Linked DNA regions of Homo sapiens: region 2 is linked to region 1. The links come from fine-mapping of genetic effects on gene expression. A gene starts in region 1. The other region holds a variant in brackets. All regions are shown on one strand. Distances are between the middles of the regions.

Region 1 (12,189 bases):
TGCTGACACAGAAAAAAAATAATTATGAAGAGCACAGCTTAAATTTTTTGAATTTATAGAATACTTCATGAGCAAGAAGAGACACAATTACTAGGAAGAAAATCCTTAAGGTGTGACCTCTGGCTGACACACATCCAAGGCAGTGCTGGCACATGCTTAGAGCACAGATGTGAGCTGCTTACCTATGTGGGGAGACTTCAGGGCTGTGAGTAGGTCTTTCGCAGAAAAACCTTCAATTTCAGCTTCTGTAAGGCATCTCATTAATGGCAAATTTCCAAGGGAAGTAATTTATAGACTGAGTAGGCGCCTGCACATAATCCGTGGTAAATAAATATATGAATGAATAAATGGATGGGTGTAGCAATTTCACTAATGTTATAATTTGTAACAAATTCTTTATTAAAAATATAGACAATATTGCAAAATTAGTATGCCATTTTTAAACAATTAAAAAAGTGGCTATATTACCAAGTATCCTCACTCTCCAAATAAAAAGTAAAGAAAGAATTACTCCTAACATCATTATACATCATAACCATGCTAACACTATACATAATAAAAATATATTTTAACACTTTGGCATATATATTTCTAGGTATCTTTCTCTATAGTTTTCTCTCGCTTAAAAATGCTTCATAACTCTTTGATAATTAGTGTTTTTCCATAAAATGTATTATAAATGTCATACCATGTCAACAAGATTTATCAATTCCATTTTTTTAGAGAAGATTTTGATAGGAAAGGAAAGGGGAGGTGCTTGAAACCACTGTGGTGCTCAAATGGGGAGGTCAAATCCGAAGGTCGATAGAGACAGGAGAGAGGCTAGCATGCAGAAGGAGTAACGGAAGAAAACTGACTGGTCTCCAGTGTGGTTGTCCCTGGACGACTGGGAAAACTTGCTGGTCTTCATTGTGGTCGTCCCTGCACACAATCATGGCCCATGCCAGCTGGCTCGCTGGGGTTGAGTGAAAGAAGCTTAGTCCTGAATTGTTGGTCCCTTATCATAAGACACCAGCCTAGAGGCTGGCACAAATTTCTGAAGTTGGTATAAAAATGAATCTGACCACAAATCCTTTTTCCTGTAGGCTTATTGTGGGTAATCCTTTTGAACAGTAGTGGAAATGGGCAATCACCCACTTGTTAAAGACCTGTGTAAACCAGCTAAAGGATTTCTGAATTTTTAATAAACTATGTTTCCTTACTTACATTTTATCAGGCTTAACACTGAGCACATTTTACCTCGAGATATTGAATATTATCTGCTTACCTTTCTTGGACATCTCTCTAGTTCGTGGGTGTTTCTTTGTTAACTTCCTGAACATTTCCTGGCCTTCGATGTTTGTTTCCAACTTACTCTGCACCATCTTACACCTATTTTGAGGTCTGCTGGCTTCTACTAGGTTTCAAGTAACTAATTTCAGAAACTACTTTATGTTGAAGTTTTCATGGATTCCGGTAGATTCAAATTTCATGTTCTCAGATAGTATATCCCTAGAAAGAAATTTCGTGGTGATGATGCTTCAGGCAAAAAATGGCAAAAGTTTCAGAAGCCAGAGCAGGCCAGTGGAGAAGACCATTTTGGGCAGGTCACTTTCACCTTGCATAAGTGGCTCTCCACACTGCCCATGCTTTTTGGTATTTCCTGCATTAAACCAGGGAAAATTTAGCAGGTCAAGGGGAAATTTATTGCCAAATATTTTTTGAAGATAATTTTAAGACTAGATAGAGTCTAACAGAGTTGGACTCTGTTTCTTGGTACGAACTTGTGTTTATTTCCTGTTAGGAGGGGAACCTGTGCCATTCTCTCTTCCGTATTTGCTTATACCTATTTGTAAGTCCATTCAATTTGGACATGAGGACTTCTGGCTACATCTAAAGATATTCTTTAATTTTTCATTGTGGAATAATACAGGATTTTAAATGGCTAATTCTGGTAACTCAAAAGATATTTAAAACTTTTATGGGTGATGAAGAGTGGAGATGTTTTCAGCTTTTTCCATAATAAGCTGTTATGAGAACAGTCTTAGGAAGATTTATTCATGGTCCAAAAGACCATTGATTAGCAGATGTGAGAGCAGTGGAGTATATTTTATGGCTTAAAGGATTATGCTAACATGAATAATCACATACAACTTACTCCAAGAAGTTTCATTTATATCTTTCACAGAATCATAAATTCAGCAGAAATTTTGACAAGTCATTTAGTTTCTCCTCCACTTTTAAACAGGATACTTTCCTCCAACCCCCATATGTTGTTTCCCAAGCAATAGTGCCATGAAATATTGTGCAAGAAAGGCAAGCTTCCATGGTTACAAAATTCGACAAACTGATCCTCTTGGAAATAATATCATAGACCCTGGAAGTTGTACCCAGACTACAGTACCTAAAGAATAGCTACAATACAAAATACAACAATAACAATATACAAAAAATAAAAAATAAGTACATAAGAGATTCAGATATGCAGCTGATTGGGAACCATTGGTTTGATCATAGGATGCCATCCCAGGGAACTGGGGGATGTGGTGTTGAGGGCCCTGACCACCTGGGAAGGTAGATAGGACAGCATCTATCTACTATGGGCGGTAGGCAATCTTCAAATACAGGAGGTAAAAGAGGGAAGGAATCGACAAATGACTATTTTATTTACACAATGAGGTAATTCAGGCACATTCAATACTGAAAAAGAAACTCTCTAAAACATATCTCTGAACAAATTCAGTCATGACTATGTGTTGCATTTATTATTTTAAGTAGTACAGTTAGTGTTCTGCAAAAATATTTATGATGGTTGCATTGCTATAGCCTGTTTTCAGCAAAAAGTATAATTCTGTATCAATGATGAAATAGCACCTCAACAAAATAATGATAATGATCCCATACTATGCACTGGTACCTCTAATTTCTTTATGAACTGAAAGTTATTTTACTCATGTGTAGGTAAACCAGAGGAAGAATTAGGTAAATTAAGTGGATTAATTTCTCCTAGGAGTATTTTAGTAGTGACTGAAGGAGCCAGTTTTATATTCTGAAGGATGTAGACTTTGGATAAAAGCTTGAAGGTCAAGTGGAATTTGGATAGACTGAGAAGAAATGGAACACAAATTACATATGGGGAAAATAAGTGTAAAGTGTGAAGTTGAAAAATGAGTTTGTAATGTATAAAGAAGAGTGGAAAAAAAAAGAATTCCCAAATAACCATGTATTTAGGATTCTCTGCCTCTTTCTCGCAGTGTTCCTCAGGAAGAGTTGTGTCTAAGTTGTGTCTTTGAAAAGAACTAGAAACTCTCAAACACTGTATTTCCAAACTTAAACAATAGCATTAATTTTGATCAGTGTCAGAAAAAAAATAAGTCCACCTATGATATGTCAAAAGCAACTCTTCTGCCAGGCAGGCAAGGCTCTACAGGACAAGATCCCATTTTACCAAGCCAAGATGGCTACCACTTCTCTCCATGATGAACTCTGTTCCCATGGAACAACTCTTTTTCCATCCCTTATACACTTTATGTTCATTTTTTCCTCCAAATCTTAGCTCATGTCATTTTCTTACTGAAAATATTCTCTACTGTTTTCGTTGCTTATTAAAGCCCCTTGGGGGCTCAAGTGAAGTTTTATGTTATCATTTTCATTATTAACATATCGAGTCTTAGGCTGTGCAAGGCCTGGGTACTTCTCGATATAGGAAGGACACTTCTTGATATTACACACACAGTCTAGTTAATTCCTCAGAAAATAGTATTATTTCCTTGCTTTAAAAATTATTGTCTAGGCCAGGTTCAGTGGCTCACACTTGTAATCCCAGGACTTTGGGAGGCTAAAGTGGGAGGAGCCCTTGACCCCAGGACGGGAGTTTGAGATCAGCCTGGGAACCATAGAGAGATACTGTCTCTACAAATAATAATAATAAAAAAAATTAGCTAGGTGTTGTGGCGTGTGCCATGGTCCCAGCTAGTCGGGAGGCTAAGTTGGGAGGATCACCTGAGCCTAGGAGGTCGAGGATGCAGTGAGCACTGATCACATCGCTGCACTCCAGCCTGGGCAACAGAGTGAGACCCTATCTCAAAAAAATTCTCTAAAACCAAGTAAAGCAGCATTTTATTGTTTTATATTCTTGTATTATTATTATATTTTCTGACCATTAGTTGCATCTTTTCTCTGTCCAGAAAATGATAGATACCCTCCCTAAGTCTAGATAACATGGTAAACCTCTGTTGTCCTACCTCATAATGCTGGGTTTGTAGTAGATGTTCAGTGAATACTTGAGTTAACACACAAGCATCCATTGATTCAGCATGGGACCCTGAGGAAATCTCTTATACAATAGCTATATCTTGATGGATAGGCAAGTTTGGGAAAAGTAAGCATCTCAGCATATAATAAATATACAGGACCCCCCATTCATAATATGCTTTCGAGTCCGATATCCTATTGCTCCTACAACAAGCATGAGTGACAGGTAAGAAGGAGACTGCCCATTTTACAGATGAAGTGGTTGCAGTTCAGAAAGTTTAAATGATTTGCTCAAGATCAGAGGGTGGGTATCACAGCTGGACTCCAACCTTCATCTTATGATTCTGAAGCTAAGGTGGAGGACAGGACTGGACAGCCAGTTGGGCGGGGGCAATCTTTGGGGAGGAGAGAGTTTACCAGAACAAGAGGCAGTCAAAGGGGAATCAGGAGTTTGAAAGGTAAAGATAAACTTTCACCTGGGGTAGGTCTTGGGATGTGGTGCATCTGGCAGCCAAAGATTTCTCCTACAGCTTTCTAACCATCTCAGGGAGAAGGATTTGGAATGAACATTAGCACATGACTGTCCTCAAACTGTGTGTAGGAGACTGTAGTTTCAGCCAACTGGCCACTGAAAGGGTCACTAGCCTTCCTCTGTAAGCTGTAAGTTGGCAGTTAGAAAGGGGTTAAATTCATGTCTTTTGCGAAGGTGAATTACATGGTTAGATATGTGCCGATCACCCTGTCACCGCCTGTGGGGCACACAACTCTGTGTTCCACTTGCTGTCTCATATAATGCCCGAAATTGTTGCCTAGAGAGCTGAACAGTGACATCTGTTGGTTCGATTTGAAATAGGCAAGTTCAAAAGAGAAACAGCCACACTAGTATTTCTTCCCCTTTCAAAACAAATAGGAACAATCATGACAAAGGAATGACCCTTCCAAAGGAAGTTTTAACATCAGCAGCATACTTTATCTGAAGAACAACACACGACTCCAAGTTTCAGGATGAGGGATATCATGTGACTTTTATTTTTGCAGAAAGCCCATCAAAGACTTTGTGTAAACCTTTTAAAACTCCAATTCAAAAGAAACAGTACTAAGACCTGTGTATCTGAGAAATTCCTCAATGCTCAAGATTTCATCCAGAAGCATAAATGAGCAAATAGAAAGTATGGATTTGGGGCAGTGGTGAGAAATAATGAAATTGCTTTCTGCTCTAGGAAACTTGAGAAACAAACCTTCCTGTGGATGTGCCTGTGAGTTACAACCCAGCTTGAATCCTTTCTAAATAGCTCCAAATTTCAAGATCACTTTGACAATCACCTAGCTCTTAGCTTCAATTAATTAAGTGTCCATGTTCCTTTGTACTGAATGCTCTATTTCTTTCCTTACAAAACTCTAAACCTCATTGAATGTACAATGGAAATGATTTTCTGGGAAATCTGGATAATCAAAAAATACTATATTCTGACAAGTTATATATATACATATGTAAATTTTTTATATATTATATATAATTTATATACATAAATTATATATATATAGTGTGTGTGTGTGTATGTGTGCACACTCCATACAATATCATTTCCTGCTCAGACCTTTACAAAAATTGCTAAGAAACAGTAAATTGCACAGTTTGGCCTTCAACCTTTTAATCACCCCAAGGAGAAAAGAAGTGGCTCAAAGAGTAGCATGAGAAAACAGAGGAGAAAATGAAGGCTTGGATAATCTGCCAACCGAATAACTGAGTAATGACATAATTGGATCATTGAAAAAAATGTTAAAATTTTTACCAGTTATTAATTAGAGAATCATGCATGACCCTGGGAACTTGCTTTTTGTTTTAAAACAGGAGCCACGATTATGAAATGGTTCAAGCTGGCTTATTCAGGTCTGCTGAGATCTCTACTGGTTTGCTTTTCAGATCCCTCGTGGTTCGAGAACAGAATGGCGTTAAATCACACTGCCCTGCCTCAGGACGAGCGCCTGCCCCATTACCTTCGAGATGGGGATCCTTTTGCTTCCAAACTTTCTTGGGAAGCGGATTTAGTGGCTGGCTTTTACCTAACAATAATTGGTAAGCTTCCTTAATTCTTCTGTGCAAAGGCTGCATTTAGAAAATTCATGGGCTGATATGTTAATTTTGTGAAAGGATTCTGATACTTAAGTGGATAGTTTAGTGGAGGCGAAGAGTGGGGAAAGGCAGAAGATGGAATGGCATTATGGCATTCAATAAATGTTTCCTAGAAATGACTCTTTATTATCATTATTATTAGGAATAAAATTCCATTGATAATCCAAGAACTCTTACAGCAAAATTATTTATCCATTTCATTTTGGTTACTTTGGGAGTAGATTTACTTTCTGAATACCAAAATTAATGATAATGATATTTTATTTAAACAGAGTGCTTTTTAAATAATGTTTTTGACATAATCATAAGTTTTAGGTTGAGAATGGGCCTTAAAAATAATCTAGGTCAGTCTCCTGTTCTCACAACTGTGCAAAACTCAATTGTGCTATTGTGCTATAGTACTATAGTAATGGCAGAAACACTGAGTTTACTTCACCTAAAAGTAAAGTCGCATCAAAATAGCTAAGCCATTTTGGTGACAGTTGAAAAATGTGTTGGTGATAAATGGAAGAAAGTCCGGGGTCAAAAGATTTTTGTGCATAATTGACGAAAGGGTGCACCTGCTTCTAGACTGCATGATCTCATTCATTCAGTAGCCACATGTGGCTTTTCCAAATTGAAAGTTGCTGTAGTGTAAATACTCACCAGATACTGAAGGCTCAGTACAACAAAAAGTGGTATAAAATATCTCATTAATAATTTTTAAAAATTAAATACATGTTGAACATACAACATTTTAGGTATGTTAAGCTAAATAAAATATATTATTAAAATTAATTTACTGTAAATTTTAAATTTATAAATTAAATTTTTACTTTGTAAATTTTTACTTTGTTTAATGTGGCTACCAGAAAATTTTAGAATCCATATGTGGCTCGCATTTCTGGCTTACATTACATTTATACTGGATAGCACTAATCTAGACAGTTAGGATTTAATTTAACCACCTATTTAAATTTAAGAAAAGAAACCATACTTTTCTTAAATTTAAAATTGTTGTTTTAACTTTGGGTGACCAGTGTGAAGGTGGGTTATGTCTTTAGGTTTGTTTGCCTTTAATTTTTTCAGATGTTGGGTCAAACTTGCTCTCTCTCTCTTTTCTCTTTGTTTCTATCTTTCTCTTCCACCCTTCTTCCCTTCCTCCCTTTCTCTCTTTTTCTCCCTCTCTCATCTATTTATTACTGGCTAAGAATTTCATTTAACCTCCTGAAAGTAGCAAAACTCATTAGAAAATACTTGATATCCCTCTATGGTCAGTACTTGAGGCAAAAGGAACTCATGTGATTCAACCAAATTCTGCTGTAAAGTGATTCCCTGGGTCTTTGTCTTTATTGTTGTTAGTGTTTTACTAGTTTAAATTCTGTTTCTTATAAATGAGTCCCCATCTCTTTTCAACATAAATATATATTGAGCGCCCACTCTTTGCCACTGTTTTAAGTTGCTGGGAATAGAGCAGAGAATAAAATGGGCAAACATTCTGCTGGAACAGAAACTGTCTTATCTCTGTAAAATCCACATTGCATTTTTATTAAACTTAAGTACTTTCAATTAACAGAAAAGGCAGAAAAATAAGCAACTTGATCAATTGTATTTAGCATAGCTCCATCACTTTCAAGGAATGAATTAAAAAAGTAACATCAATAACCTGACAAATCTCTCCAGACAACACAAAACAGAGAGGCCTATCAGTCCATTCCCAATCTTAAGCAGGGAGGATTGCAGGAGGATTGCAACCAGGGTGAGGAAATCAGGAGAATTTCCCACCTGATACACATGGAGTTGGAAGGAAAGTCCACAATCATATTCCAGTGGGTTTGCTGAGATGGAGCCAGAAAAACAGGTTGAAAAAGAGTCCCTGGACAGGGGGAGCTTCAGGAGGATCAGGGCACTAGGAGGTGGAGCCAATGGTATGTTAGAGAACAGTCACGCAGGGTGAGGAGAGGGGTCGACTGGAGGGGTTTGGACTCACCCTAGATCCACTTCTTGGACTTGGCCGTGTGTCTGGTTTTCACTCTCCTAGAATAGGCTAGTGTAGATGTTGCAAGATTCCTTTTTTTTTTGGACATAGAGTCTCACTCTGTCACCCAGGTTGGAGTGCAGTGGTGCGATCTCGGCTCACTGCAACCTCCATCTCCCAAGTTCAAGCAATTCTTGTGCCTCAACCTCCTGAGTAGCTGGGGCTACAGGTGTGCACCACCATGCTTGGCTAATTTTTGTGTTTTTTAGTAGAGACGGGGTTTCGCCATGTTGGCCAGGCTGGTATTGAACTCCTGGCCTCAAGTGATTTGCCCACCTCAGCCTCCCAAAGTGTTGGGATTACAGGCGTGAGCCACCGCGCCTGGCCAAGATGTGTGTGTCCAGATTGCTTTTAAGGAGCCAGAGTGGAATAAACATTCTTGGTGGGCTTTGTTAAATACTAGAAGTCTTAAGAGACAATGGAAAGATAACAATATAAATCTGAGTTTGAAATACAGGAGACATAAATTACAAACCCATTTTCTACCTTCCACACTTTTACTATTATTGTAAATACTGAGTTTATTAACAGTTAATATATATGATATTTTTGTATCCATAAATGATATAGGATTTGATAATCTAAAAGTGTCCCCACTTTGGTCTTTATCTTCTTAATCTGGTTGTCTTTTCAGTAATATTAAGAATAAATTTGCTTTTTCCTGACACTCATCTATAACATATATATATTGCTTGTTAGAATAATTTACATGCAATGAATAGAGAGGTGACTATTTTTTGATAATGCTTTGGGCACTGGGTGAAACCTTATGAAGCAGGGTCAGTAAAGAAAATTTAAGGAAGGAAAAGTAAGAAAACAAATATTTTCAAAAGAGATGTAGACAGATGAAAGGTGTTTCAATGAGCCTTGTGTATCAAACGAAAATGGATACTTGTTTTTACTCTTTTTGGATACAAAGTAGGTGGCATTAAGTTTATACTTTTTCAAGCCACGTTTTCACATTTTGCTTTCCTAGCTGGTTTCCTTGAGTGAGACCTGTTTCATTTTAGTTGGTTTGCTCTGGAACTCCGTAATCTCTTTTATTTTTCTCTTCTTCTGCTTTATGAAAGCTAAAGAGGTTTTAATGGACCATTAAGCAGCACTGACTCCAGGGAGTCAGAATTTCCTAAGAGCACAATGCAGTTAGTTCCTGGTGGTTTCATACCATCAGCTGAATCACACATTTCTTTCTTTGCCCCCAAAATGAATTGTGGTGGAGAAGTAGAAATTAAAATAGAAAACTCTGGGTTTCTCCTGTTAATACTCTCCTTATTCCTTACTACTAAAGGCAGCTGTACCAGATTCTCATTTATACACAGCTACACTATGAAGCAAGAATTCCTGAAGAAATCTACTCTACATGTTAAGCTATGGAAGTAGGTGTATTCTTTTCTTAAATAAAGTCAGTAGGGATTGGGTCTTTTTGGATTTAAACTGGGTTTGTAAGAACTTTCGAACAGTTTCATTGTAATGCCAAAGGCAACTAGTCATTAATAAAAGGATATGAAAAAGTGGGAACACACTTATGGCATTGTTGGTAGGTTCGGTGGGTTGAGGGTCACTTTCTCTCCCCTTGGTGGGAGGGACAGTGCCCAGGTTCTCGATTGTCACCCACTTACCCTTGATATCTAGTCCAGTAGCAGCTGAAGGCTGTCCTATCTGCCAGACACTCAGTGTCCATGTCTCCCAAAGAGGCGGAAGTCCTGGGGCGTCTCTGGGAGATGTCCATTTTCTTGAAGGGAGTTATGCCAGTCATACCTGGCCTCTGCCTCTCCTGAACACTGGTGCTCCCTTAGGAGTTGACAGTGATACTGAAGGCACCTTCTTTGGTTGGCTTCATCTTCAGAATTTATCAAGAGCTAAGGGTTTAACCCTACTGATCAGAGGGAGGGAGTTCTATAAAGCCAATAATCTATAAAAATGGCTGAGGAAAGTACTCCACTCTGGGGGCCAGGACAAGAACTGACCATTGGGATTCCCACACTTTCCTGAGCCTCGCGGGGAAGTTAGCGATGCCTTTTTCTGGGTAAGTTCAGTCTTATAATCCCTGACTCCTGCCCCATTGGCCTGTCACTCACAACTCATGCTTTTTATTTCATCTTCTTAATTTAGATTTTTTTATTTAGAGTCCTCTCACTACCCTCTAAATCTATGGTGTCCATTTTTGAAGTTGAGAAGTGTTTCATATCTGAGTGAACTCGAAATCTTAGTTTTAACGATTGGAATTTTTATTTTTCCTTGTAGGGATTCTGTCCACATTTGGAAATGGATATGTCCTTTACATGTCTTCTAGACGAAAGAAGAAGCTGAGACCCGCTGAAATAATGACTATCAATTTAGCAGTCTGTGATCTGGGGATTTCAGGTAACACAACCATGCTGTGTTTTCTTTGTGGGTTTAAACTACTCCCCATTCTAAAGTACTCACTGTCTCAAACGTCACCCCCTGACATCTCTTCCCTTCACATCTCCTTCCACTCTTCGCTTCACAAATCAACTTTCAGAGTTTTGTGGTAAGTCAATGGGGTGCTGTCCGGCTGACAAGATTATTCATTTAATATTTATTGAGTCTTTTCTGTGTGTCAGGCATGTTAGATGCTGAAGGCACAATTTGAAATAATATGTGATACCTCAGATGTCTCAAAGTGTAGTGGGCTAAATGATTCAGAAATCAGAAATCAGGAGGCAAATCCCAGGTCAGTATTTTAAGCTTCTTTACACCTCTTCAACCCTTATGGAAGTCTGATTAAAATAAACATCAACAAAGGAATCTTGAAGGGTAAATGACAGTTGAAGACAGTTGAAGGCAGTTGAGAGGTGAATGTAGGAAGAGGAAAGAGGTGCCCTGCTGATGATATATGTAATCATGACTTAGTGACATATCACAAGCATAGGAAGCTTCTGGTTCAGTGGTCCTCAAATGCAACTCACAAAATATCATCTGGGGAAGTTCTGAATTAAGTCGTTGAGAGTGTTACCTGGGCATCAGGATATTTAAAATGAGAATCTACAGGTATGTTAATGTGTGGCCAAAATTGAGAACCACTGGCTTCTTTTTCACTTCTCTAATAACATGGCAAGGAGTTGGAAAAAAATTTCTCCTTCACTATAATTCAATTTAAAAAATATGAACCATTTTAAGTAAATCATTCTTCACTTTCTTCTATACAACTTCAGAGTTGCTTAGATGGACTCTAATCTGTCTTTGAATCCCAACATCTGCTATTTAGCTTATGGTTTTAGGTCATTAGAGTAGGGTAATTTGTTTGAACAGTACACAGCAGCTCCTCTTACCATTAGAAACTTGTTAGTAGTTTCCCGTCAAAAGCCTCCTTTAAAAAATATTTCGTGTCTGGGCACAGTGGCTTGCACCTGTAATCCCAAAGCTTTGGGAGGCTGAGATGGGTATAAAGTTTGAGGCCAGGAGTTCAAGATCAGCCTGGGCAATGTAGTGGGACTTCATCTCTACAAAACAAATTTATCCTTGAAGTCTGGGTATTGGGTAAAACTAAACAAAACAAATAAAAAATAGCTGGGCACTTGATCAAGTTCAGGAGTTCAAGGTTGCAGTGAGCTATGGTACTACCACTGCACTCCAGCCTGGGTGAAAAAGTGAGACCTTAATTAAAAAAAAAGAGTTTTCCGATATTTGTTTCTCTCTTCGCAAGTGGATTTTTCTGCCGATCTCTAAAAACAAGGCTCAATAATAATCCTCCGCATTCTGAGTCACTCTTTAGCACACAGCAGATGTGTGCTTACTCAGAGTTTGGATGGTCTTGGTTATCTGGGAAGGCTTTATTCAGTAT
Region 2 (12,189 bases), 100 kb after region 1:
CTCACTGAAAGCAGCCATATCAGTCTTCCAAATACAGTAAAAGCCAACGAAAATCCATATCAACTGTTTATTTCTAATATGAAACAGTAAACCTTGTCCATGTGGTAATTAATTCAAATGCCTTTTGTGTTTTCTTGTGAAGTCATCCAAAGCAAAAGTCTAGATGACTGCTGACATGATATGCATAATCTAATGAACTCACATCTCTGTTTATTTTGCTCATCCCACAGTTGAATGACACACTGACTGCTGAGACACTTGGGTTGATTTAGAACGGCTATTAATGAATCTATAAATTTGGCTAAGGTTGATTTGACTTTCTAGGGAAAAGCCAGCCTATCTTCAAATGGACAGCTCCCTCCACATAAACGTCAATGTACCCTAAAGACAAAACTAAGTATATGTATATACGGGATATATACATATATATGTACACATAAAATGGATTGGGAAGTCCTTTGGTTTAGACAGTATTAAATATGTACTTCCCAAGTGCATAGGTTTCCTTTGACCAACCTGTTCAAAAAACAAGCATGAAAAGTGCCATGGCACATTTCCCATGTCTTTCCCCCTATTTGAAGGACACCTTTCCTTGCTTCTCCATCACTCCTAAGCATTTTATTTTTAAAAGAAGCTGGTTATTTTGGCCTTCTATCTTAACACTCCATTGATTCATCCATTCCTTGGAAGAGCTCTCAGATTACATCCAGAAACTTGTTTTTAGAGGAGAACAAGGTTGCAAATAACTTTTTCCTCTTTTTTTATTCCCTCTTCCCCCCAAGAAGCAGGCACCTTGAAGTGTCATGAATAATGCACTCTTGATCTGACTTGCCTTGTTACCCCTGGCCAGCCCAAGCAGCTGAGGTCTGAGCTTTACTTGCCCTGCATCATTGTGCAATACTGGAAAAGAAAAATAATCCACTGGTCTATACCCCTCATACTGTGGTGACGTGATCCGGGTTCTCTTGAATTTCTATGCATTCAATTTCCTCTCTCTCCTTTCGCTTGGCACGTTTCTTTTTCTTGTGGTGCTTTTTGGAAGGGGGGAAAAACGTTAGGAACACAGGTAAAATAACAAAACAGTGCAGAAGTGTGCAACCCCCAGTGAGCAGCAAGCATTTGAACAGTGTGAAGGTCAGGTTCGAAGGCACAAATAGAAGGGGGACTAACCCAATAAGAAAAGAAGTAACATTTTGCAAAATGGCTGTCCCATGGTCTTGCAAGGAGCTTTTTATACATTGTGTTCGGGTGTGCTCAGTTGCTAATACAAATGTGAAAAGCAGTGGTGCACAGTGGTCAATGGCGAAATTCAAGGTGTAGATAAGGCACAAGATAGAAATGCAATCCATGTCGACGTTCCATAATGTCATTAAGCCCAGAACGCCCAGCTCAATTGAGGTGACGCTAAGAATTAGCCAGAAGTTTCCCAGAGGGTGGATCACTAGGAAAAAAGTCAGGATTAACACCAGGAGAACACCAAAGCCTGCAATCAGAACAGGCACTGTGACAGACAAGCTGTAATGGTCCATGAAGACAAAGGAGGGGTTGAACACGATGAATCGGATGCTCTTTGAGAGGGATAGGGGCCTCAGCTTTTCCAACACTTCTGTGATTTCTTTCTGCTTGTCTCTGCTAGTCCTGGCCACCAGATACAAGCGAGAAGCAATGATATTGCTTTCATCCCCTGCCTTGGAGAAGATGATATCATTTCGAAAATGCTGGAATTCTGGCTTTTTTAAAAATGAGCTTTGCAGGACACTGATGAAGTCACTTTTGTTATTGGCACTGACGTTGCTGACTTTCAGGAACTGGTAGTACTGCTCCACCCAGGACACTGCAGTGAATCCACTACAGAGTCTTCTTAGGTCATCCTGGACGCTGCTGTTCCAGTACTCTAGGGGCTCATAGACGTAGAATCCTATCACAGGGCTATAGTTGCTGAAATATTTCTGCTGAACCATGGCATAGGAAACACTTGGCGAATCACTGGCTAGTAGATTGATGATGTTGGCTCCGTCACTGATCTGTAAGCACCCCATGAAGGAGAAGGAGGCATAAATGAGATAGAGGATGACAACAAATGGCTTCACATATATATTGGTAATCCATTCATTATAATGTTCACGGAGGAAGTGCTGAATGAAGTGGTGCTGGTAGGGGTTCGTCTCATGATGGGACGTCTGTTGATGCCCATCACTCATCACTGTCTGGAACCACACAGGTTTGCGATCCAGGTATTCTGCAGAAGGGATCTTACAGCAAAAGATGCTGTGGTAGCGGTTTTGCTCTAGTTGGCCAGCAAAGACCAGACAGGAGCCAAAGAAGGAGAAAATGTAGAAGTAGTTCAACAGAATAGAGACACACATGTTTTGACAGAAGACCTTCACAGCCTCTATGTTTGTGAATGGGCTGGCACCCATGCCAAAAGTGATGAAGTACAGGGAGCTGGTCATGGTATAGGTGACCATCACATCAGAATAGGCATCTGCTATCCTGTCTTTGAAGGGCAAGTTCTCTTTGGTTCTCCGCCATCCGGACAGAAGCTCAAACACTCCTTTAGTTCCATGACCTAATGTTTTAAAAAAAGAAAATAATAATTATTTTTATTTCCTCCTATGGCTCAAGTGAATTCCTTATAGTTTATCTATGCTAAATGGCACTTTATACTCTAATCTTCAAAGGGCTGTGATCCTCCTATCAGGGCCTCAAAAGTTGAGTTATGGACAGGATACATTTGGTCCCTGTTTCACTTTAGCAAAGCCCAAATTTATTGATATTCTGGGAAAAATGAAACATGTATTGTCTGTTCTATCAATGTGACAAGTTGTAAATATAATGTTACGTTATTACATGATGTTTTTCCCCTGAACACATATTGTCTTCCTAAATAGACAGTTTTGTCAACGGCAGGGGCCGTTATTTGTGCGCCTTCAAATGACCCTTAACATCATGTCAAGTGCTTGGTTAACTGATTCATTGACTGACAGTTCCTAACTTTTGTTTCAAGCTGATTTATATGCTGATTTAGGAAATTATAAAAGTATGTTAAACACTTAAAAATGGCTCTAAACTGATTTTATAATGTTGATAATCTCCTTGGTGGCCAAATGGCTTAGAAACCAATTTCCAAAGAGTTGATTAATTAGCTCCGGATGTGAGTTTTTAAAAAAAAAATCTGCCACGTCACATAAAAGACAGGGCAAGACCTTCGGGGTGAAAAATCTTAGCAAGCACTTCCTTTGGGCTCCTCATAGAGCTCTGATTCACGTGAGATGGATGCTGACTAAATGCTTTTGACTGCTTCGTTAAAGTGAATGAAGAATACTTGTTTTAAACCAATGTTTGTGTCCCTTTTGATAAGAGTAAGTAGGCAAAAGGCTTAGTCAACACATATTACTTGAACACCCAGTGTATGCCAGACTCTGGTAGCTACTGAGCTGTAATTTTGAGGAATTTCATAGCTCTTAAGATACTACCACTTTTTTACTAGCAAAAGGAGAAAGCAGCTGAGTAAACAAAGGTATTATACTATATCTGCAATTTCCCCTTTTTTCACTTCCCTGAATTGGACCTGTCAATGACCATCCATAATATATCAATTGGTAGCTTTCTGAGTGAGTGGAAATCTTCATAGATCACTCTTGCCCTTGTGGGCATAGCAATACTACATAGGAACCTTTTCTGTGAATGGATACAAGCTGTGCTTGGGCTGTTCTCCAAGGAATCCATTAGACAAAGACATAGCTGAAAGGCACAAAATCAACTAGTTTATGAAAACCTGGAAAAAGGACTTAAATGTGGCACTTAGATATTGGAGTTAGGTGTTACAAACTTAATTTACTTAGTAGTGCTTTAACAAAGATGTGATAGCTGGGGTCTTACTGCAATTGCTCTGAAATTGCATTGCCGATAGCTTTTGCTAACTGACCTGTATAATTCCTCCCTTTCTTTTATTTGAGACTACAATGTACATACTTGAAAATATTATTTCCCAGCCTAGTTTTCAACTAGAGGTGTTTCATGTGACATAGTTCTGGACAATGCAATGTAACTGAAGGTCATCTAAGGATGCTTGTTAGAAAACCAGAGGGCATTTTGTTTGAAATAGTATAATGAAGCCACTGGGATGAGATCTTGTCTGCCTCCTTTTGGAATTCTCTTCTAAGAAAACCAAATCTTGGCTAAGCCATTGTAGGTAACGCTGTTACTTGCAGCTGAATCCATTCCTAACCAACAATGTTTCCTAGGTCAGTTAACATTTACCAAAACCTCTTTTAAGATGATCTAAGAATTCTTGCTTCATAGTTAATTTGACTATAGTATTTACAGACTTAAATGTATATAATGCAAATATTTGATTTTTAAAGACACATTGGCCAAACTTTTGGTAGTTTTTATCAATTATTAATAGCTACTAAAGGAAGCTAGGCATTGGAATTCTTTTTACCGCTAATGTAAAGCCTATTTATTCTTCAAAGCTGTCTCTTACGGGTCTCCAATCAGGAAAGATGAGTTTATCATAACAAGTAGAAAGGTTCGTGTAAACTGCATTTAGGAAAAGGCACGTTTTTTTCATTTGGAGGTCATGAACTGTTCCTTCTTGCATTTTATCAGGAGCTCAACATATGTGTATTACATTTAGTCTAATGATTCTTAACAATGTTAATTGTTCATTCCTATCTTCGGCAAAACTCCTTGAAGAGACAGAATACAGTACTTGCTCTATTATTCCCTTGACTAAAATACAATGTTAGAATAAGGGTTAAGGTAATTAAAATAATTCTTTAATGAGAGCATCTCTCTTCAGAAATGAGGACTCCTGCTATCTTTGTAGTCACAAGGTGGGGAAAGGCTACATAGAGCTACAGCTAAATTTGGCTTGCCTTTGATAGTGGTCATTTTTATGGAACATTAGGTACACTATGTAGGCCAGATTTTTGCTTTATGTAGTACAAAGGCCTGTAGGTGTAGGAAGATGATACTAAACCATATTAGATTAGGTAATCACTTTAAATGTGGTCGAGACTGAAAATACAATTTCCAAACTTTGTTTGGAGATGGCGTGTTTTATCCCACTCATATGTTTAGATATTTTATAGGATTTTCCTACTGATATTCACTCATTTGACTGTCACAATAATCTGCCCATTTTCTAGCAGTTCAAATGTATTGCCTGCTCCAGTCAAGGTAACTCTTTCACTGCCCTGTGTGCATGTTCCTCATTAGTCTTATCTTCTTAGCTTTGTTTATGTTATTTTCTGTCCCTTAAAATACTTTCCTCAATTCTGGTCATATTAAAATTCTATTCATTGGTCTGTTAAGGGTCAGTTAAAGTCTCCTATTTGCTATGAATCCATTTCTAATGATTCCAGTGATATATATATATATATTCCTTAAATTTTTATTGCCCTAACTAGTCACTCATTTTGGCCCACAACCATGTGCTGTTTTGCTCTGGAATTAAATGGTTTTCTCAAGATATGTTCTATCTCTTGGTTGGATTGCAAATTCTTCATGGCTAGGGAATGCATTTTATCTTACTTTTATACTCTGCAGGACATCTGGTAAAGTGATAGATGCCCAAAAGATGCCCATTAACTTCTTTTTGAATTAAATAAACTATAATTCTTGATTCTAGATGGGTCCAAAAATAGATCTTTTTATTACTTATTCTAAAATTTATTATACATCTTTGTACCTATATAAATATCGATTGTATCCAGAAGAGCTATATACTATTTACTTTCATTCAATGCAATATATATTTATTTAGAGTTTGTTATATAATAACTTTTGCTAGCCGATATATAAGATATAAGGGTAAACAAGGAACACAATCTTTTTCAACAACTGTCCAGAAAGT[C/A]ATTTTCACTTAAGTAATTCTGAGACCAAGATTATAGCTTCTAATGCAACTGCTTTAAAAATAGGGATATATACCTAAAAAATTATATTGGCACTTGTAACAAAGCCATCAATACTTCTCTAAAAATAAAGAAGCAAGAGCATGAATAAAGAAGAGAATATGTCAGAGTGAGTTTTCTTTTTGTAGATGTTACTTCTATTGTCGTATAATGAGAAAATATACTACTGTGAAAACAGCATAATTATTTATTTTAAGTTCCTGCTAATGCATTTAGAATGTCTATATTTATTAAAATGCTAGATATTACTAGGATTTTAGACTTTAAAATAACTTTAATTAATTAATATGAAATAACTGTGTATAGTATCAATGGAATTAATTGTATGGAGAGATAAAAGTTTAATAAAAGTTTTATTTGTTTAATCCAGGGTTTCCCAACTGGGCACTATTGACACTTTGGGCTGGATAATTCTTTATTGTCGGGGACTGTCATGAACTTTGGAGGATGTTTAGCACCATTCCACTACCCACTAGATGCCAGATGCACACCCCACAGTTATAACAACCAAATATTTCTTCAGACATTGTCAAATGTTGCCTGTGGGGCAAATTTGGCTTCAATTGAAAATTATTGGTTTAGTCAAAAGAAAAAGAAATAATATACTCACTCATACACACACATACTTAATTATCTGTTTCTGATTATAAAATCAGGATACATTTCCATGGAAAATTTGGGAAAGATGAAAAATAGTGGTGAAACAAATTATTCCAGAATCCCGTAACACAGAAAACTGCTGTTAACAACTTCAAGAATTTATTCCAGTCATTTGTTTATTTATCTTCCAAGCTTATGTATGTATGTGTGTGTGTGTGTGTGTGTATGTATGTATGTATATATTCATTTATGTATCTACCCATCTGTTCAGATAGGTAACTACCTATATAACTAATTCAAAGAACTGGATTGCTACCAACCAAAAATTAGAATTTAGGATTACTCTTGCAACTCTGTCCAGATGCCAATCAACCATGGAGAGTCTGTTTTCCAATTTCTGCAGTGTTTTCTGTCTTTGTTTCTTACTTTTCACTTTGGTTTCCATTCTGAGGCTGGAACCATTTTTCGAGCATCTGCTCTCTTGAAAGAAGCCCCAATTTTCTCTTTAGCTTTTTCTAATAGTATTTTATTCCCTGCAGTTCCACCCTTACTCAGAGATTCTTAATCCAATTCAAGTAATCCACCTCAAACTGATGCACCAGTGTCCACCCCAAAGACACTGGTGGCCCACCAATTCAGGTGATGCATGGATCACATATAAATGTGACATGCCCCACTGAATGATGATTGGAACTACATTATATTATTTCCCAGTACCCAGTCCTAACTGTTCTTTGAGTCTGTCCCATTTTCCCACCAAAATCTTTAATTCTCACCTGAGGCCACTGCTTGTTTTAAGAACAACTCCATTCAAGTTCTGGACTTGTTTTACATGCAGTTACCTAATATATAAAGAGGAATTTTGTTCTTACTAAGTAGGGCTGTATGCTGTGTACCATGAAAATGCGGCTGATTCTTCCTGAGGGATCAGGGAAAGCTTCAAAAGGTTTAGGCAGAGGATGATGTTAATGACAGTTTAGGCTGATGGGATAACATGAATAGAGACAAAAACCCCTGTAAACTATGAAGAGGTAGTTGTGTGTTTAAAGTTTATAATTGTTATTTTTTTTCCCTCAGTAGAGATTAGCTCACTGCTATAGCGAGCTGGTATACTATTGTCCACAGTATATTTTTGATTTATGTTCCAAAATCTGACTGCCACACTTTGGTCATGATTTCCCTGAATTACATTAGTATATATTTGCACACTGCATTAGATTAATATAATAAGTAACTCACTCGGGACATTATTAGATGACTAATATTTCCTTTAGCACAGTTTTTTGAAATAAAAGAGAGAGTTCTTAAGGGTAAAAAAGAGTTGGACAGAGGAAAAACTGGGAGAAAAATTCAAGGAGGGAGATGAATAGAAATAATAAGGGGGTGTGTGTGTGTATTGAGTACTCCACAAGTCTGATGGGATGCTGATGGGGAGCTCTCTTTCCAAATGAAAGCAATTAGAAGCATGGTGTAACAATAAGGAAAACCTACATGGCAGCTTGCTAACATGCCCCCATTTAACAATGATTTGGTAAGTTCTGCTATTTGCAATTGAGCCACATGAAAAAGATAAAGATCATGAAGGTTCTTCATGGTCATGGTCGTGCAGGTCTGCCAGAGTGAATATTTAAGTGTTTTTAAATTAAAAAAAAATTATTGTTACCAAACAAAACTGATACCAGTCCTCAGTGAGGTGGGGAGCACTCAGAACTGGTTATAATTCCGTTTGAGCTTCTAGTAATCATTCTCCAACAAATAAAGATGACTTCTAAAGTAAGATGGTTCTTCTCTGAGAAACAGCTCCAGCCTTCCTTTAAGAACATTTTTTCCAAACTCCTACTCTTCTAATGTAAGCTTCCATATTGTAATTGCATCTAACATTGCTGTAGGAAAACTCTCTGGTGACGTAGTTAGGCCTAAAGAGAAGTTTTTCTTTTTTCTTTTTTTTGAGACGGAGTCTCACTCTTTCACCCAGGCCATAGTGCGGTGGCGAGATCTCAGCTCCCTGCTACCTCTGCCTCCCGGGTTCAAGTAATTCTCCAGCCTTAGCCTCCTGAGTAACTGAGATTACAGGCACCTGCCACCACACCTGGCTGATTTTTGTATTTTCAGTAGAGATGGGTTTTGCCACATTGGCCAGGCTGGTCTCAAACTCCCGACCTCAAGTAATCTGCCCGCCTCGGCCTCCCAAAGTGCTGGGATTATAGGCGCGAGCCACGGCGATGGCAAGATTTTTTTTTTTTTTTTTCCCAGAGCAATGTTGTTCTATAAATCCAATATCATTTTTACAGTTGCCATTTTAATCCTACACTCAATCTCTCCAAAACCTACAATTCCAAAGAAAATACTTTTAACGAGGATGAAATTCAATTGGAACTAATTGTAACTGACTCAATTAATGCTCTCTACTGAGTTTTTCTTTGCTATGTTGCTTTAATAAGCATGATCTGTGGGTTTCTAGTTTATTTTAATCAGCAGAATTAGAATTCTCATTTGCCTTCAGAAGACATACTGGTGGGTTTTCCTTTTCACTTGAACATGCTAATCAAGATATGAAAGCTTGACACCGATATGAGAGACGTAAGAAATAGAGGTTAAAAAAAAATACTCCTTTTTATGACCTGTTCCAAAGAAAGCTTACTACTTTCCCTTAGAAGTTATTTCTTCATTTGGTTAGCTACACTTTCAATAATTGTGTTTGTGAAAATCACCCCCGATCGTGACATCCCAATGCCAACTAAATGAATGAATAATGAATAAAAAAAATAAAACCACAATCAACTGAAAACTCAGTCCAGCAAAGCAGATGCAAAAAAGTCTGGATAATACATCAGTATTTTAAGTTATTGTTCACTTCTTTGGCATTATGTGGGATCATTTATCCATTGTTCCTTCTCTTTAGCTGGCTGATTCCTACTTAGCATGTTCTCAAGCATAATCTCACCACTCGAACATGCGTGATCTCTAACACTTTCCGCTTGCCCTACTCACCCGCATTCCACCAACTTAGACATCTCTGCCCTGTATTCCAACCCAAATCACAGTACTTACTATACGCTAGACTGAGATTGCCCGTTGGTGGGCCCATCTTTTAGCCAGTCCAGAAACTCTTCACTGGCCAGGTTAGGCACTTGCCTTTTTCACTTTTGTATATTAATTATTGGCTTATGGTAAATGCTCAATAAATGTTTTTAAAACTGAATTGGCCATGATCTACATGTAGAAATTTTAAAGATATTTGAACACATTCTTCTTGTAATAGTTATTATTGTAATGATACTTACTAGATTAACAATAATAGGTATAATCTATATAAATATATTAATTTATATTTAATATATTTTATGTAATTTACTCTATACATTTTTAATAGAATTATTTTATATAACTTATAAAATTTATTGAGGAATTAAATATAAATTATAACTTTAATAATAATAAATGTTACTATTTATCATTAGTTCTTACAATAATTATTATTAACAGCCCTATATTCAGCAATGGGTTTTGTGAAATAGATATTATTTGCCTCATTTTACTGAGAAGGAAACTTGCTGAGTGTCACCCAGTGATTCTGAATTTTTCTCCCATTTCCTCCTCTGTTCAGTTCACATTGACAGAGGTGGAAATAGATGTCAATTATACCTAATTGGGAAATTAGCATATTATTCATTAATTTGGCTGGTTCAGGATTATGGATATCTAACAGAGAATGGAATATGAAATGAAATTACTTGTTCTATGTTGTTCTTTGACAGGGTAGAAACAGGTTCATAAGACACTCCTTTTGCCTGAGAGATGATGAACTCTTTAGATATTTTCTAATCCCCATAATGTCTAGTCTTGAGGTGATGATCAGTGTGTATTTGTATACTGACTGCTTCTAATTTAGTATCATCTAAAGTAAATAGATGATTATCAAGCCCCAAAGGTTGCTCAATTTATACAATGGCCAAAGCTTCTACCTCTTGGTTCTTATATAGCCCACAAAGGGTAGGGGGTGTTTAACAGGAATTCTCTAAGCTGCTACTGCCAGGGACATGTATGATGGTTTTACCTGGAAACCTTTGATAATGTTGTTCAATGAGGGAGGGCCTCGCTTTATCTTGTCCTTAAGCAAGAAGTGACTTCACTTGAAATATTCCCATCCCAGTACAGAATGAGTCAGAGTAAAGAGCAGAGAGTAGGGACGGGCATGGTGGATCAAGCCTGTAATCCCAGTACTTTGGGAGGCCGAGGCAGGTGGATCACAAGGTGAGGAGATCGAGACCATCCTGGCTAACATGGTGAAACCCCGTCTCTACTAAAAATACAAAAAATTAGCCGGGTGTGGTGGTGGGCGCCTATAGTCCCAGCTACTTGGGAGGCTGAGGCAGGAGAATGGGGTGAACCCGAGAGGCGGAGCTTGCAGTGAGCCAAGATAGCGCCACTGCACTCCAGCCTGGGCGACAGCGCGAGACTCAGTCCCCAAAAAAAAGAGTAGATGGGAAAAGGAGCAGAATATTGCAAAGAAAAGAGGAAATAATTATGAGCATGAACAGACACTCAGTCCTTAGCACTCAGGAGGTTACAGGATTTTATTAGGTCTCTAATAAGAAAAAATAAAACTTAGTAGCAGATTCTCATTGTATAATTTTCAGAGCAGTTGTATATTTTATATATATATCTTAGTGTATAGATAAAAGACATATAGTCTCATCCAGAGTTTGCATTCAGTCATTTTGACAATTTATTTTGTAGTTTTTTGTTTGTTTGTTTGTTTTTGTTTTTGTTTTATTATTATTATACTTTAAGTTTTAGGGTACATGTGCACATTGTGCAGGTTAGATACATATGTATACATGTGCCATGCTGGTGCACTGCACCCACTAACTCGTCATCTAGCATTAGGTATATCTCCCAATGCTATCCCTCTCCCCTCCCCCCACCCCACAACAGTCCCCAGAGTGTGATATTCCCCTTCCTGTGTCCATGTGATCTCATTGTTCAATTCCCACCTATGAGTGAGAATATGCGGTGTTTGGTTTTTTGTTCTTGCGATAGTTTACTGAGAATGATGATTTCCAATTTCATCCATGTCCCTACAAAGGACATGAACTCATCATTTTTTATGGCTGCATAGTATTCCATGGTGTATATGTGCCACATTTTCTTAATCCAGTCTATCATTGTTGGACATTTGGGTTGGTTCCAAGTCTTTGCTATTGTGAATAATGCCGCAATAAACATACGTGTGCATGTGTCTTTATAGCAGCATGATTTATAGTCCTTTGGGTGTATACCCAGTAATGGGATGGCTGGGTCAAATGGTATTTCCAGTTCTAGATCCCTGAGGAATCGCCACACTGACTTCCACAATGGTTGAACTAGTTTACAGTCCCACCAACAGTGTAAAAGTGTTCCTATTTCTCCACATCCTCTCCAGCACCTGTTGTTTCCTGACTTTTTAATGATTGCCATTCTAACTGGTGTGAGATGGTATCTCATTGTGGTTTTAATTTGCATTTCTCTGATGGCCAGTGATGATGAGCATTTTTTCATGTGTTTTTTGGCTGCATAAATGTCTTCTTTTGAGAAGTGTCTGTTCATGTCCTTCACCCACTTTTTGATGGGGTTGTTTTTTTCTTGTAAATTTGTTTGAGTTCATTGTAGATTCTGGATATTATCT

Direction of the effects. Alleles are on the strand shown, and positions count from the first base shown. SD is a standard deviation of normalised expression in the study named.
As copies of C replace A in region 2, the expression in prefrontal cortex of the gene that starts at base 6,146 in region 1 goes down (moderate effect, 0.74 SD a copy in CommonMind).

The links. PIP is the estimated chance that this variant, and not a neighbour inherited with it, causes the effect. A credible set is the group of variants that fine-mapping cannot tell apart.
Region 2: its variant is the best candidate, but not a certain one, in a credible set for the expression of OPN5 in prefrontal cortex (CommonMind, PIP 0.58).

The regions. Positions count from the first base shown.
Region 1 is chr6:47,775,887-47,788,075 of GRCh38, forward strand. It overlaps OPN5 (opsin 5), which reads left to right and starts at 6,146. Exons shown (of 7, transcript NM_181744.4): 1 at 6,146-6,310; 2 at 10,629-10,748. The coding sequence starts at 6,181.
Region 2 is chr6:47,877,368-47,889,556 of GRCh38, forward strand. It overlaps PTCHD4 (patched domain containing 4), which reads right to left. Exons shown (of 5, transcript NM_001384253.1): 5 at 1-2,569. The coding sequence ends at 936. Among named protein-coding and RNA genes, the nearest start is that of OPN5, 100 kb to the left of the region's middle. The variant C/A (reference allele first, on the strand shown) is at 5,864.